Regions from separate parts of the Homo sapiens genome. Here region 2 is linked to region 1. Evidence: fine-mapped expression QTL. Tissue or cell type: whole blood. Region 1 holds a variant in brackets; the other region holds the start of a gene. All regions are shown on one strand. Distances are from middle to middle.

The links. PIP is the estimated chance that this variant, and not a neighbour inherited with it, causes the effect.
Region 2: ESPN starts here. The variant in region 1 is fine-mapped to the expression of ESPN in whole blood (TOPMed, PIP 0.94).

What each region holds. Positions count from the first base shown.
Region 1 is chr1:6,382,101-6,389,626 of GRCh38, reverse strand. The region is part of intron 1 of ACOT7 (acyl-CoA thioesterase 7); the gene reads left to right. Among named protein-coding and RNA genes, the nearest start is that of ACOT7, 7.9 kb to the left of the region's middle. RefSeq lists an enhancer at 2,877-3,862. The variant G/A (reference allele first, on the strand shown) is at 3,330.
Region 2 is chr1:6,420,639-6,428,164 of GRCh38, reverse strand. ESPN (espin) reads right to left here and starts at 3,389. Exons shown (of 13, transcript NM_031475.3): 1 at 2,916-3,389. The coding sequence starts at 3,209. RefSeq lists silencers at 3,210-3,259, 3,290-3,449 and enhancers at 3,446-4,059, 4,060-4,674.

The DNA.
Region 1 (7,526 bases):
TATTTTTTTAGTAGAGATGGAGTTTCACCATGTTGGTCAGGCTGGTCACGAAGGGAACAGAATTTTTAATTGCATCAATTTAAATTCAGGTGGGTAGCCACCTGTGGCTGGTGGCTATCTTTTGGGGAGTGCAATATGTAGAGAAATTTAAACATCAATTTACTAGTAGGTCTGTGGGGGGCAGGGTGTTCCTAAAGGAAGCTCCAAGGCTTTCTGGGGACTGTAGCCAGCTCTGGAATAACCATGCTGATGGAGGGGGACCTTGGCATGGACACCACCCAGCAGGCAGATAACTTGGCATGCTTTATTTATAGGTAGATGTGTGAAATCTACAAGGTTTTTTTGTGTTTTCTTTGCTTGCCATGCTCTTAGATGCAGATCTACCAGGAAGTTTCCTGAGATCAGGAATTGTGTTGTACCATGTGGTACCATGAATGCCTAGAATAGTGTCTGAGGTCTAGTTGACAGGTCAATAAACAGCAGCTGAGTGGCTATGAGTTTCAGTATGTTATGGGGTTAGAATTATTTCCCCCAAGGGAAAAGACAAAGAGGGGCTCTACCTTTGTCTTTTTTTTTTTTTTTTCTTGAGACGGAGTCTCACTCTGTTGCCCAGGCTGGAGTGCAGTGGCGCGATCTCGGCTCACTGCAAGCTCCGCCTCCCGGGTTCACGCCATTCTCCTGCCTCAGCCTCCTGAGTAGCTGGGACTACAGGCATCCGCCACCACACCCGGCTAATTTTTTTTTGTATTTTTATTAGAGATGGGGTTTCACTGTGTTAGCCAGGATGGTCTCGATCTCCTGACCCTGTGGTCCTCCCACCTTGGCCTCCCAAAGTGCTGGGATTACGGGCGTGAGCCACCGCACCCGGCCTTTTTTTTTTTTTTTTTTTAAGAGAGTCTCACTCTGTCACCCAGGCTGGAGTGCAGTGACAGGATCTTGGCTCACTGCAGCCTCTGCCTCCCCAGTTCAAGCAATTCTCCTCTCCTCAGCTTCCCGAGTAGCTGGGACTACAGGCACCCACCACCACACTCGGCTAATTTTTGTATTTTTAGTAGAGACGGGGTTTCACTGTGTTTGCCAGGCTGGTCTCGAACTCCTGACCTTAAGTGATCTGCCCGCCTCGGCCTCCCAAAGTGCTGGAATTACAGGTGTGAGCCACTGCACCAGGCCGGGCTCTGTCTTTGGTTTTATAATGGAATTAATGAAAAGAAAGAACCTGGCCAGGCGCTGTGGCTCACGCCTGTAATCCCAGCACTTTGGGAGGCCCAGGTGGGCGGATCACGAGGTCAGGAGATGGAGACCATTCTGGCTAACACAGTGAAACCCCATCTCTACTAAAAATACAAAAAATTAGGCGGGCGTGGCGGTGTGCGCCTGTAGTCCCAGCTGCTGGGGAGGCTGCAGGCAGGAGAGTGGCATGAACCCGGGAGGCGGAGCTTGCAGTGAGCTGAGATCCCGCCACTGCACTCCAGCCTGGGCGACAGAGTGAGACTTGGTCTCAAAAAAAAAGAAAAAAAAGTTAGCTGGGCGTAGTGGCGGGTGCCTGTAATCCCAGTTACTTGGGAAGCTGAGGCAGGAGAATCGCTTGAACCTGGGAGGCGGAGGTTGCAGTGAGCCGAGATTGTGCCATTGCACTCCAGCCTGAGCAACAAGAGCAAAACTCCGTCTCAAAAAAAAAGAAAAAAAAAAAAACAAAGAACCTGATTTACAGAAGCCACACTCAGAGCTTGTATTCTGGAGCATTCCGCAAAATGATTTACAGTGCTGGCTCTCTTGCTGCTGGGATGTGTGGACCCTGGGTGAAGATGCAGTCTTTGTAACCCAGAGAGCCTGTGCGTGGGGAGGCCTTTGTCTACCCACTGTCCAACCTCACGCTGTAAGTGGGCCACTTAGCCTGGCATTGCCCTGGAATTGGCACCTGCAGCTAGCTGGCTCCCCAGTTCTGGTCAGACCAGAAGTGGCTTTCTCCTGTGTGACCCACCTGGCCTGTGTAGCCTGCACCAGGGGGTGACCCCATAGGCTGTCTTGCCATCCCACCCCTTGGCCTCTCACTCTCAGAGCCCTCCTGGGGAGGGGGATCAAGGATGTGCCTCCCCATCCTTGGACCCCTGCATGGGAATAACTGGGGAAGTCTGTTACAAATATGGGTTTTCTGCATGTGAACAGTACTTCAGCAGAGAGTCAACAAGATGAAGATTGAGGAGATAATGGGGAAACTTGAATAGTCCCTTGATAATGATTTTAAGGAATCACTGCTTTTTTTTTTAAGGTAGGATAATTGTTTTGTAGTTTGCTTTTTTAAACCAGCTTTATTGAGATAGATTTAGAATGCATACACAAGAATATTTGAAACGTACAGTTTGCTGAGTTTTGATGAGTGTGCACACTGAGTAGTGGCGGGCCCAGTTGTGATGTCGAATATTTCCAAACTCCCAAAATTCCCCTACTGTTGGCCCCTGGCAAAAAGATCTGCTTTCACTCACTCGCTGTGCCTCTTCTAGAATTTCGTGTCGATGGAACCGGATCGAGCTCAGTGCTGGGCCTCGCTCCTGTGTCCCCGTAGCCCTGTATTACCCTGTTCCCTGCACACTGCAGTTTCTCTTCACCAGGCCACAGAGACTTGGGATCTTGTGAATGAAGTTCACAAATGCAGATTTCAATTCATTTAGGACAGAAACGTGAAGTCACTTGCTATTTAATGATATTAGGAATTTGGATGATATTTTAGATGAGATCTTTGTTTTGTGGTTTTTATTTTTATTTGAGACAGGGTCTCGCTTAGTTGGCCAGGCAACTAAGTGGTGCAGTGGTGCAATCATGGTTCTCTGCAGCCCCAACCTTCTGGGCTCAAGGGATTCTCCCACCTCAGCCTCTCGAGTAGCTGGGACTACGAGTGCACGCCTCTGTGCCTGGCTAATGTTAAAAAGATTTTTTGTAGAGACATGATCTCACTTTGTTGCCGAGGCAGGTCTTGAACTCCTGGGCTCAAGTGATCTTCCCACCTCGGCCTCCCAAAGTGCTGGAATTGTGGGCATGAGTCACCATACCCCTCCTTTAGGTTTTTCACAAGGAGCTTTTATCTTTGAGAGGAAATGCAGACATATTTACGATGTCGTACTGGGAAATCCGGGATTTGCTGCAGAATAACCTGGCATGGGGAGCAGGTGGGAGCAGAGACCAGAGGTGCCCTGAGCTGACTGTTTTGGGGCTGCTTGATGGGGACATAGGGGTTCACTCCCTCCTCCCTCTACTCTTGTAAGCATTTGATGTTTACCACAATGAAGAATAAAAAGAAAACCAGGCTCCTGAGCCTCCACCCCAGAGCTACT[G/A]CCTCTAACTCCAGGGGCGGGGAAGGTCAGGGAGGGGTAGGCCCAGGAATCTGCATTTTCCTCGGCCCTCCTGGAGCTTGAGGGCCACTGTCAGAGGAGGGCCAGGCACCTGCCGTGTTGTGCGGTGTGTTGGCCTTCCTCGGCTTCCCCGCAGCCTTCCAGCTCTCCCGGTGCCTGTGAGCCAAGACCTCTCTGCCCAGGTGGAACTCCGCCCAGGTGGAACTCATTCTTCTACTTGCCTGAGGGCCAGCCTGAGTGGTGCGAGGTTTAAGGTCCTGGAGGTGGGAACCCTTATGAGTGTTGCTTGTGGCCCCACCCAGTTCATCCTCTCCCGCAGAGGGGTGGTGGCCCTGTCCTGTTTCCCTGTCTGTGAGTTCAGGCCGAGTCATGGATTCCTTGCATCACTGGTCTTTTGTAGAGAACATCCTGTGATCCAGTTCCGGAAGCCGAGGAGGCGGCTTGCCGGGGGCTGGTGGGGGAGGGGCGGTCCTAGGAGGAGCAGGAGCCTGGTGCTTTCTATCAGGGAGGGATCACACCGGCTCACTGCTGAGCCGGCCAGGCAGACACAGGCTTGGGCTCTGCTGGGCATCATACTTGTCACTGGGTAAACAGTTTGCCCACTTACCGCAGGATGAAGCTGCTTGCCAGGGCTCTCCGGCTCTGTGAGTTTGGGAGGCAGGCATCTTCCAGGAGGCTGGTGGCTGGCCAGGGATGTGTGGGGCCCCGGCGAGGGTGCTGCGCTCCCGTCCAGGTGGTTGGGCCCAGGGCTGATCTCCCACCCTGTGGAGCCTGCATTACTGGAAGGTAGGATGACTGGGAATATTTTGTGCCCATGGTGTCTCACTTGCGACGCCGACTGGGCAGCCAGGGCCTTGGGCCGCATAACTTGGAGGAGTTTTGGGGAGGGTAGTAGGGTCGGGTGTTGGATGAGCTGTGTGTTTTGCTGGATTGAAAGTGCCCACTTAAGTGGCCACCCTCAGTGGAGACCTGGCATGTTCTTCCCCTAGGGACGAGCGGAACACCCGGGCTTTGTTGGAGGAGGTGACCTGGCAACCCTGGGCTGTGGGAATCTGGGCCTCTGCAGATCAAGGCTCCTGCAAGCCAGCAGCTGTGCTGGCTCACAGCTGGCAGCTGGCATCCGTGCCCTGCTTTGTCCCTAGGCTGGATGTTGAGCTGTGATTTTAGACCAGAAGGTTGGTGCAGGGCCAGAGGGAGCTGTTCCTGCACGATTGGCTGATCCTAACAGTGCAGTGTTGAGCTGCTTACAGATGGCTTTTGCATACTTTATTTCTCCTAAACTTTACAGAAACTCTGTTGAGTGGGCATACATACCTCCCCCTTTGTGCCAGCTTTATTGGGTTATAGTTCACATGCCATACAATTCATTCACTAATGTGTACAAGCTAGTAGATTTCAGTTTTATGTTCACAGAGCTGTGGGATCATGACCTCCATCAATTTTGAAAGGGGTGGTAGGAGGATTTTTTGTTCTCCTGACATGGAGCTCCCCAAGCCCTTGGGACCTTTGTAGTCCTAAGAGTGTCTAGTATGCTAATGAGAGAACTGGTGGCTGGGGGCCCTAGATATAGCTTCAGGATGGGAGCTGGTCTCCAGAAAGGCCAAGGGAGGATTAGCGGGTTAGCGCTTTCAACCTTACCTTCCTATACCGCAGAAGGTAGTGCCAGACTTTACTTGAATTGTAGGACACCCACCTAGTGTCGGAGAGTTGGAGAAGTGGGGTTGAAAGAGACACCCATGTTTGTTATTAAAAGCATGAGTAAAAACAGCTCGCCTAGGAATATAATTTTTGGGTCATATGGTAATTTTGTGGTTATTCTCTTGAGGAATTACCAGACTGTTTCCAAAGTGGCTGCACCATTTCACATTCCCACCAGCAGTGTAAAAAGGATTCAATTTCCCCATATCCTTGTCAGCACTTGTTATTATCCATCTTTTGAATTCTAGCCATGCTAGTAGATGTGCAGTGGTATCTCACTGTGGCTTTGATCTACATTTCCCTAATGAGAGAAGATGATACTGAGCATCTTCTCATGTGCTTATTGACCACTGTGTATTTTTAGAGAGCTGTCTAGTCAGGTCTTTCCTGTATTTTCCAATTGGTGTAATTGTCTTTTTGTTGTTGAGTGATGAGAGCTCTTTATATATTCTAGATGCAAGTCCCTTCTCAGATAAAATTTTTTAATTAAGAAAATTTTCCAATTCAAAAAAGTTGTCAGCCTGGGCAACATAGCAAGATCTGATCTCTATTAAAGATTAAAAAATTAGCCAGATGTTGGCTGGGCGTGGTGGCTCACACCTGTAATCCCAGCACTTTGGGAGGCCGAGGCGGGCGGATCACGAGGTCAGGGGATCGAGACCATTCTAGCTAACACAGGGAAACCCCATCTTTACCAAAAATACAAAAAATTAGCCGAGTGTGGTGGCGGGCGCCTGTAGTCCCAGCTACTTGGGATGCTGAGGCAGGAGAATGGCTTGAACCCGGGAGGCGGAGCTTACAGTGAGCCAAGATCGTGCCACTGCACTCCAGCCTGGGCCACGGAGCAAGACTCCGTCTCAAAAGAAAAAAAAATTAGCCAGATGCAGGGTAGGTGGGGTGTGCCTGTAGTCTCAACCACTCAGGAGATTGAGGCAGGAAGATTGCTTGAACCCAGGAAGTTGAGGCTGTAGTGAGCTTATTGCACCACTGCAATCCAGCCTGGACAACAGATCAAGACTCTTGTCTCTCAAAAAAAAAAAAACTGTGTTAAAATACACATAATATATAATTTACCGTTAAAAAAATCTGCCATCAGGCCGGGCGCGGTGACTCACGCCTGTAATCCCAGAACTTTGGGAGGCTGAGGCGGATGGATCACGAGGTCAGGAGATCGAGACCATCCTGGCTAACAAGGTGAAACCCCGTCTCTACTAAAAATACAAAAAATTAGCCAGGCGTCATGGTGGGCGCCTGTAGTCTCAGCTACTTGGGAGGCTGAGGCAGGAGAATGGCATGAACCCGGGAGGCGGAGCTTGCAGTGAGCTGAGATTGCGCCACTACACTCCAGCCTGGGCAACAGAGCAAGACTCCGTCTCAAAAAAAAAAAAAAAATCTGCCATCTTAGCCGGGCATGGTGGCTCACACCTGTATTCCCACCACTTTGGGAGGCCAAGCTGGGTGGATCACCTGAGGTCAGGAGTTGGAGACCAGCCTGGCCAACATGGTGAAACCCCGTCTCTACTACAAATACGAAAAATAGCTGGGCGTGGTAGCCCACGCCTGTAGTCCCAGCTACTTGGGAAACTGAGGCAGGAGAATCACTTGAACCTGGGAGGCGGAGGTTGCAGTGATCCAAGATCGTGACATTGCACTCCAACCTGGGTGACAAGAGCGAAACTCTGTCCAAAAACAAAAAAAAAACAAAAAAACTGCCATCTTAATGATATGTGTATATGTATATGGTTAAGATGGCAGGTTTTGTTTTGTTTTTTAAATTGAGACAGGGTGTTACTCTGTCTTCTGGGGCGCATGTGGTGGTGCAGTCTCGGTCACTGAGCCTCTACCTCAAGTGATCCTCCTGCCTCAGCCACCCGAGTAGCTGGGACCACAGGCATGTGCTACCATACCTGGGTAATTTTTGTAGTTTTTGTAGAGACAGGATTTCGCCATGTTGGCCAGGCTGGTCCCAAACTCCTGAGCTCAAGGGATCTGCCCATCTCCGTCTGCCTCCTAAAGTGCTGGGATTACAGGTGTGAGTCACAGCGCCTGGCTACCATATACGTATTTGTAGCCATATTTTCTTGCTCTGTCACCCACTACGTCTCACTATGTTTCCCAGGCTCATTTTAATCATTTTTAAATGTCCAGCTCAGTTTTTTTGTTTTGTTTTTTGTTTTTGAGACAGAGTCTCGCTCTGTCGCCCAGGCTGGAGTGCGGTGGCACAATCTCGGCTCACTGCAAGCTCCGCCTCCCGGATTCAAGCGATTCTTCTGCCTCAGCCCCCCGCGTAGCTGGGACTACAGGTGCCCGCCACCACGCCCAGCTAATTTTTGTATTTTTAGTAGAGACGGGGTTTCCCCATGTTGGCTAGAATGGTCTTGACCTCGTGATCCGCCTGCCTCGGCCTCCCAAAGTGTTGGGATTACACGCGTGAGCCACCGCGCCCGGCCAAGTCTTGCACTTTCGCCCAGGCTGGAGTGC
Region 2 (7,526 bases), 39 kb before region 1:
CACTCCCAGACTCCCACAGGCCTGGAAGGTAGCTCTGTGCTCTCTGTCTTCCCTGGAGGGATTGGCCAGGCCTCATTCAGCAATGTTTTTTTTGGGTCAAGCGGATCCTGGGTTTGAGTCCTGCTTCTGTCCTTGGGCAACTAACTGGCCCTCTCTGAACCGTAGCCAATAGGCAGCACCGTGCAGGGTTTTCAGAGGCTGCAGGTCCTGACTGCGAGCTGCCTACACGACAGGCACCTGGTTGTCACGGCAGGAGACTGGCACCAGGCCCAGGGCCACAGCCCTGACTCCCAGGGACTCAGGGAATGCCTGAAGGAGTGACACAGGGTTACTGGGCTGAGCAGGGCCAGGAAGGGGGGCTGTGGGGCTGTACCAAGCTAGCATCAGGATTGGGGGTCACCCCCTGCATCCAACACTTGCCCCCGATCTCTCCACCCTTCCTCGGTGTCACGTGGGAACAGAGACCTCCACCTTGGTACGCCTCCAGGAACCCAACCTCAGTGCAGAAAACCGGCCCCTCCCCCAGCAGACTCGCCAGTGCCCAGCCACAGGAGCAGCCTGTGTTCTCGCCCCTGTGGAGGTGGAAGTTGCTGGGTACTGGTGGGCGGGTCCGGGGCAGTCAGCCAGGGGTGCTAGGTGCAGGCTAGTGGTGGCCTCTGGGAGGGCTTGGACAAAACTCCCCCCGGGGACCTCAGAGCAGGTGGGGCCAGAGGTCTGGGCCCAGAACTGCTGAATGTGTCATCAGTGCACACCCCATTGTGTGTGTCTGCTGAGAAAGGGGCTGGAGGGGAGTGCTTACAGGACCTGTGCTGGGAGGAGAATTCCCGGGAACATCTAGACACAGAGGCTGCCGCACTTGGCAGAGTGGGTACTGGTTCGGGAACAGAACCACCTCCCAGCACCAAGCACATAGGATGACAGAGGGGTGGGCAGGGTTCTGGGTGCAGGATGCAGTGGACACACTTCACTAGGATCAGGGAGTAAAGCCTCTCTGCCCCGCCTTGCCCAGAGAGAGGGCACTGTGGTTACAGACTGGCAGAGGCGGCAGGAGCTGGCAAGAGACCCCAGGCCTCAGGAAGTCAAATCACGGTGGGAAGAGAACCTCTGAGGCTCCCGTGAGAAATGCAAGGAAAAGAGGGCACGGAGGGAGCTGGGGGCGCCGGGGCCACTAGTAGGGTCTTCAGGCAGCCTGCGGGGTGGGGGCAATTGTCTGGCTGTCCTGCTAAGGAGGCAGGGAGGAAGATGGGGCAGAGAATGTGATGGCCCATAGGAAGCTGAGGACAACACCGAGGCCCCTCCTGTGTGCTAGAAAGCTGGGAGTGGGGGGGCCAGAGACTGGTTCAGTCTGTCCCCTCCGAGCCCAAAGGTCGGGGCTGGCTAGCGGGCACCCAGGCAGAACCATGGTGAAATGTGACCTAAGCCCCAGCTCCTGAGAAAGGCGCTCCCTTCCTATTGGCCTTGGGGACTGTGGGTCTGAAGCTCCAGGGGTCCCACTGGCTCTGGGCCTCTAAGTGGTGGAAACTGTAAGGAGAGGGCCACAGGCCTGTGGGCTCTGGCCTGTGCCTGTCCAGGCTGTCCAGGTGTCCAGGCCCCAGGAGCCTCGTGCGTGGTGGACCACACCCTAAAGCAGCTTATCTCTCTGGGCTGGGCAAGCCCAAGGATCCAGGTCATCCCCCCCACACTTTCTCCCCCCACACCCAAGCCTGCCCAGCCCAGAGGGCAGGAGACGATAAGCTGGGCCCAAGGCCACCTGCTTCTCCCAGCTCCTCTGCACTGGCCAGAGAGGCTTCTGGCCAGGGCTGGACACTGGATCTGGGAGGCATGCCACCGCCCAAAAGAGTGGGCATGGGCCACTTGGCCAGGAAGCCCTGGTAACAGGGCCCACTGAGAGATAGCAGGTGGGCCATCTCCCAGGAAGGGTGGGAAGAGGGGCTTGCTATCTGAAGGCAGAAGGTGGGGTTGGCCTGGCCATCTTTGGGGCATAGTAAGCCAGTTTAGAGTTACCCTGACTCCTCCCCTTCCATCTCCAGGTCACCCAGTGGTCTAAGTGGAAATCGGTTGTGGTTCCTCCCTCCCATGGCTGCCCCCACACCCAGAATTTCATCCAAATCCCTAACCTCGGCCTATGATACTCTCTGGCCTGGCCCTGGCAGCTTTTCCCTTCCTCACCCACTCTGAACATGATGCCTGAGGCTGGCCCTCCGACAGGACAAGAGCGTGCATGCCTCAGGGCTCTGCACTTCTTGTTCCCTGTGCCTGGAACTGTCCCACCGCTGCCTGGCTACCTGCTTCTCAGCAGCCAGGACTCCCCTTGGAGGTCACTGCTCAGAGTGACCAGGTGGGGTCTGGAGGCAGCAAGAATCAGCCTGGGTTGGAGAAGCAGCTGACAGCTTGACAGCACTGATGTCCTGGGGTCAGCCTGGGTTATGGGGAGACCCCCATTTACCACGGCTCATCACCCTTCCCCCACACCCTGGCTGGGACACCTGAATCTCAGCCTCGGGTGGGCTGTGGGACTTTGCCCAGCCTCCTTTCAGATCCGGTCCTGGAGGACACGGGCGTCTGACTCTGCTGCCCAGGCCTCACGTCCCACCCACTTCCAGGACTACAGGATCAGTGCTTTGCTTCTCCCGGTACACACTAGTAACCACAAGCCCCACGGAGGCCCCTCCCTTCTGGCTCCCATCACCCAGGTGCGCTTCCAGGGAGCACCCAGGCTCGCCAGGGCATCTGCCCCAGTACTGGCAAGCCAGGGAGCCCATTCACTTGAGGGCCTCTGGAAGGAGCTCCGTGCAGGGTTCAGCTGGGCCAGGAGGTGCCAAACCCCACCCATCCTTGAGCCCCGGGGGACTCTGGGCCAGGACTCTGTCCTGAGGAGGAAGCCTCAGTGCCCCTGGCGAACCGCGCGGACCCACCTGCACTCTGCAGCCGCCCTGCGACAGCAGCCACTGCAGGCAGGCGAGGTGGCCGGTGGCGGAGGCGTCGTGGGCCGGTGTGGCGCCGTTGCGGGCGCGGGCCGCGGCGGGGAGGGCGGCTTCCTCCACCAGGAAGCGCAGACAGTGCAGCTTCCCAGCGCGGGCCGCGTGGTGCACGGGCAGCGCGTCCAGCGGGTCGCGCAGCGAGGGCCCCAGGAGGCCTGCGGCGTGCAGCGACCTCAGCACGTCCAGCTCGCCCTGCCGCGCCGCCTGCAGCGCCTGCTCCAGGGCCATGGTGCCGCGTGCGGCGCCGCGACTCCGCACTCAGCGCCTTCCCCAGGACGCCATGCACGTGTTCTTGCGGGCCAGAGGAGCCCGCGGTGCGGCCGTCGGGGATCTGCGGGCCGGGAGGCGGAGCGGCTGTGGGCCTGGCCTCCGCTCCGCGCTGCCTGGCGCTCCGCTCCGCCGCGCTCTGGGGCCGGAGCCCGCGGACGCCGGCTTAAGACTCGGGCCCGCCCCCACCCCGCCCCGCCCCGCCCCGCAGCCTCCGCCCGAGTTCCCCGCCCGCCCCCGCCGCGACGCGGGGACACTCGTGCGACTGGGGCAAGGTGCCCAGGGGCTTCTCTCCTAATTTGCCTCACGTAACAGTTGAGACCCCAGAGGGCAGCAAAACTGGGTTCGAATTGGAGAGCCGTCCAGGCACAGACAAATTCATTCATCTGCCCAGTGCCCGCTAACTGCGGTTCCAGGCGCCGGCGACGCAATTCCAGAGGTGATGGGGAGTGATTGTCGGGACCGCGTGGGCGGACAGGGAAAGGTCTCTGAGGAGGTGCCGTGGGGCTGGGTTTGAGCGGCGAGAAGGGTATTCCAGGCGGGGTGAGGAGCACGAGGACAACGGCCCTGAGGCAGGAGCAGCCCTGCCACGTCCCTGAAGGGCTCTGGGTCGAAATCCCCGGAGATTGCAAAGAGCCCTGCCTTCCAGGGTCCCTCCAGATCCGAGAACTGCCCCCAGAGGTTCCAGCGGGGAGGGCAGGAAGGCAGGACGGGAACCACTAGTGCGCTGGGAACGCCATGGCCTCAGGCCGCCCGCAGCCGCTGTCGGTGTGGAGGGGCTTCCAGCCACACAGAAGGCAGGGATGGGTGGGAGGTTAGGGCTTGTGGGGAGACGCGGGAGCGCCGGCATCCAGAGAGAGGGGGCTGAGACCCCTGCAGGGGCTCAGGAAAGTGCCAGAGGGCGCGGGCAGGAGAGCGAATGTGTGCCAAGCCACCCTGCAGGCTCCACTGAACACCAGCCGTGGGAGCGGCTAGTGCCCAAAGGACGCGAGGAAAAGCTGACAGAAGGTGGGAGCTACATGGCTGTGGGAGTGCAGGCGGCCTATCAGCGATCTTGAAGCACCCTGTGCCCTTCCTGTCCCAACACCCACCCCCTCTGGAGTCCCGTGGGGGCTTGGCCCCACCCCGGGCTGAAGGTTTCACTCCGCCCCAGCCCCAGCCTGGCACAGTCAGCACTGGAAATGCTGTAGAATGAAGGAAGCCCCTTCCAGGAACAGTGGGAGTCATAGTGCTAAACTCATAGTGCTAAACTCGGCAGCTGCCTCCGGTCCTTTCCCTGGGCCTGCCACCTAGTGGCGACCTGCGTGATGGCCTCCCGCGCTCCCAGGTGCCCAGGTAACTGGAGCTGCTGGGCTGTGCCTAGCCAGGTGGGTTTCCAACGACTTCCACCAGGCCAGATCGCCCTCACTCTCTCCATGGGACCTGTGGCCGCTGGAATCTGGGACGCTTGCCCAGTGGTTTGCAGACAAAAGGAAGGAGGAGTCATTTCCTCGCAGCCTCGCTGCTGGAGCTGGTGGCCAAAGCAACAGGCTCACTGCGGCTGGCGCTGCCCTCCTCTGGGTGCCCAGAGGCAGGTGTGCCGTGAGGCCAGCAAGTGGCAGGGGTACTGTTGGGAGGAGGTGCTAAAATGGCTTGTCTTGGGCACCCCTCCCCTGGGCCTCCTCCATTCCAAAAGGCCCTGCAATTTGTGTTCTCCACTCCTAAGGTGGCCACCTTGGTCATGGACGAGCTCATCTAGCACATGGTTTTGTGATTTTGTGGGCCAGGGCTAGGTGATGCTTTATTGCTATTCCAGTGGGCTGAGCAGATGCCCCTGAGCCCCTGCCACTGTTGTTAATGACATCTCCATTAGTGCCACATGTGAGCACCCACCCCTGCTGACCAACCTCTCAGACTCCTTTCGGGACATGACTCAAACTCAGGCTGTGAGCCAGGCCCTTCCTGCCAGGCTTCTGTCCTCTCCGGGCTCTCCCATGTCCACCGGGCCAATTGGGTCCTCCCCAGCAGCCCTAGGGAGCTCACGGCAGCAGTAGCACTTTTATGAAATCTGTACCACCCACCAAGTGCTCACCATGCTTCACATGGATATTTAATCCAGAGGTGCTATGAGAGAGGTACAACTATTGTTCCCAGTTCACAGTCGGGGATAATGAGGCATGGAGAGATAGGGAGGGTTTTTTTTCTTTTTTTCTTTTTTTTTTTTTTGAGACAAGTCTTGCTCTGTCGCCCAGGCTGGAGTGCAGTGGCACAATCTCAGCTCACTGCAAGCTCCGCCTCCCAGGCTCACGCCATTTTTCTGCCTCAGCCTCCCGAGTAGCTGGGACTACAGGTGCCTGCCACCACGCCCAGCTAATTTTTTGTATTTTTAGTAGAGACGGGGTTTCATTGTGTTAGCCAGGATGGTCTCGATCTCCTGACCTCGTGATCTGCCCACCTTGGCCTCCCGAAGTGCTAGGATTACAGGCGTGAGCCACTGTGCCCGGCCTGTTTGTTTGTTTTTTGAGATGGAGTTTCACTCTTGTCACCCAGGCTGGATTGCAATGGCATAATCTAGGCTCACTGCAACTTCTGCCTCCCAGGTTCAAGTGATTCTCTTGCCTCAGCCTCCCAAGTAGCTGAGATTACAGGTGTCTGCCCGCCACCATGCCTAGCTAATTTTTTTATTTTTTGTATTTTTAGTAGAGATGGGGTTTCATCATGTTGGCCAGGCTGGTCTCGAATTCCTGACCTCAAGTAATCTGCCCACCTTGGTCTCTCAAAGTGCTGAGATTACAGGCATGAGCCACCACGCCCAGCCTTGTTTTGTTTTTTTAAAGCATTTTGCCTGAGATGACACAGATGGGAAGTGGCAAAGCTTTCACTCCCTGGCTGAGCCTTCTGGGCTCTTCTTTCCTCTCCACCCAAGGTTCCTTCTGCCCACAGCACCCCTAGAGTCTCCCACCCTCCAGCTATCAGCTTAGGGATTCTCTCCCCAGGAGGGCTTCTCTCACCCCTCTGCTGGGCTCACCCCAGCCCACCCCAGGTTTCTCCTCAACCCAAGGGCCAGGGCACTTCCCAAGAATAGGGACCAGGGGTGGAGTGTATCCTTACTGTATCCTAGGTGGTCCCAGTTCCCCTAAAGCCTGCACCCGACATTTGCCCACCTAGCTGTCTTTAACGTTCCTCTGATTCCAGACCACTCCTTCCAAGTAACCAGCAAAACCTGAAAATCCTTGAGTTGAAGAGAACTGTGGGTTACTTGGTTAAAGTCCTTTACCCAATGGGAGAGTAGAGGAAGAAATATTTTTAACTGGGGGTAACTGGCAATGGAAATGGTGTTTGCTCCCCTGCCATTCAGTCTTCAAATGGTGGTCCGCAAACCTGGAGGGGGATGTTCTAAGGGGAGCCTCCTCCTTCAGCCTTTTTCTCCCAGGAGCTAGGGTCAGTCCCTCCCCAAGATGCAGATGCTGCAGGCGGACTTGTGGGTGCAGACCTGAGTCAGCCAAGCTAAGTCGCTTGGCCTGGGGATGAGAGGGAAAAGATCCACAGAGTTTTTTGAGCTCTTAAAGAACAATTAATTGTCTTAGGGGAGGCCTATGGAGTCAAACTGGCCTCAACCACGGAGAACAAGGTCTCAGGTTCCTCCAAGCCCTGCTGGGCCAAATCTGTTGAAGGATTTATTCTTACTTGTTAGGTCTTTTATGAGGGTTAATGCAGGTTAGCGAGCCTTAAAGCGTTAAGCCCTGAGCTTGGCACACAGTAAGTGTCCATGAAAGGTGGCCTACATTCCTTCCCATGCCACAGATAGGTATGGGTGGCCTGGGCTCCCCTGGCCCAGGCTTCTCCGGGCCCCTCAGTGTGTTCGCTGGCCTTCTTCCACCCTGCGGCGAGAACCCTGAAGGAGGGAGACGTGGGGCTAGCGGCAGGGGTGGAGCTCGGAAGTGGGGTTCGGGGGACAGGGGGTTCATCCAACACCCTGGACAGAGCCCTCCTTGGCCCCGCCCCATAGGGGAACTCCTCCTGGCTGGCTCTGTGGATCCCTCCAGTCATCTCTCTGCCCGGCAGTTCGCAGTGTGGTTCGCGGGCGTGGCCGTTGCCCCGCCAGCCGGTCGGGGGAGGGGAGCCCGGAGCAGATGGGCGGGGGACGCCAGCCAGTTTGCCGCAGCAACGGCCACGCGGCGCGAAGGCGGTCCTGGGCGGGCCACTGGGGCCCGCACCCAAAACTGTCCTGCCCGCGCGTCACATGAGCCCTGACTGTCTTGCGGGCGAGAACCCGGACCCCTAGCCGGTGGGAATGAA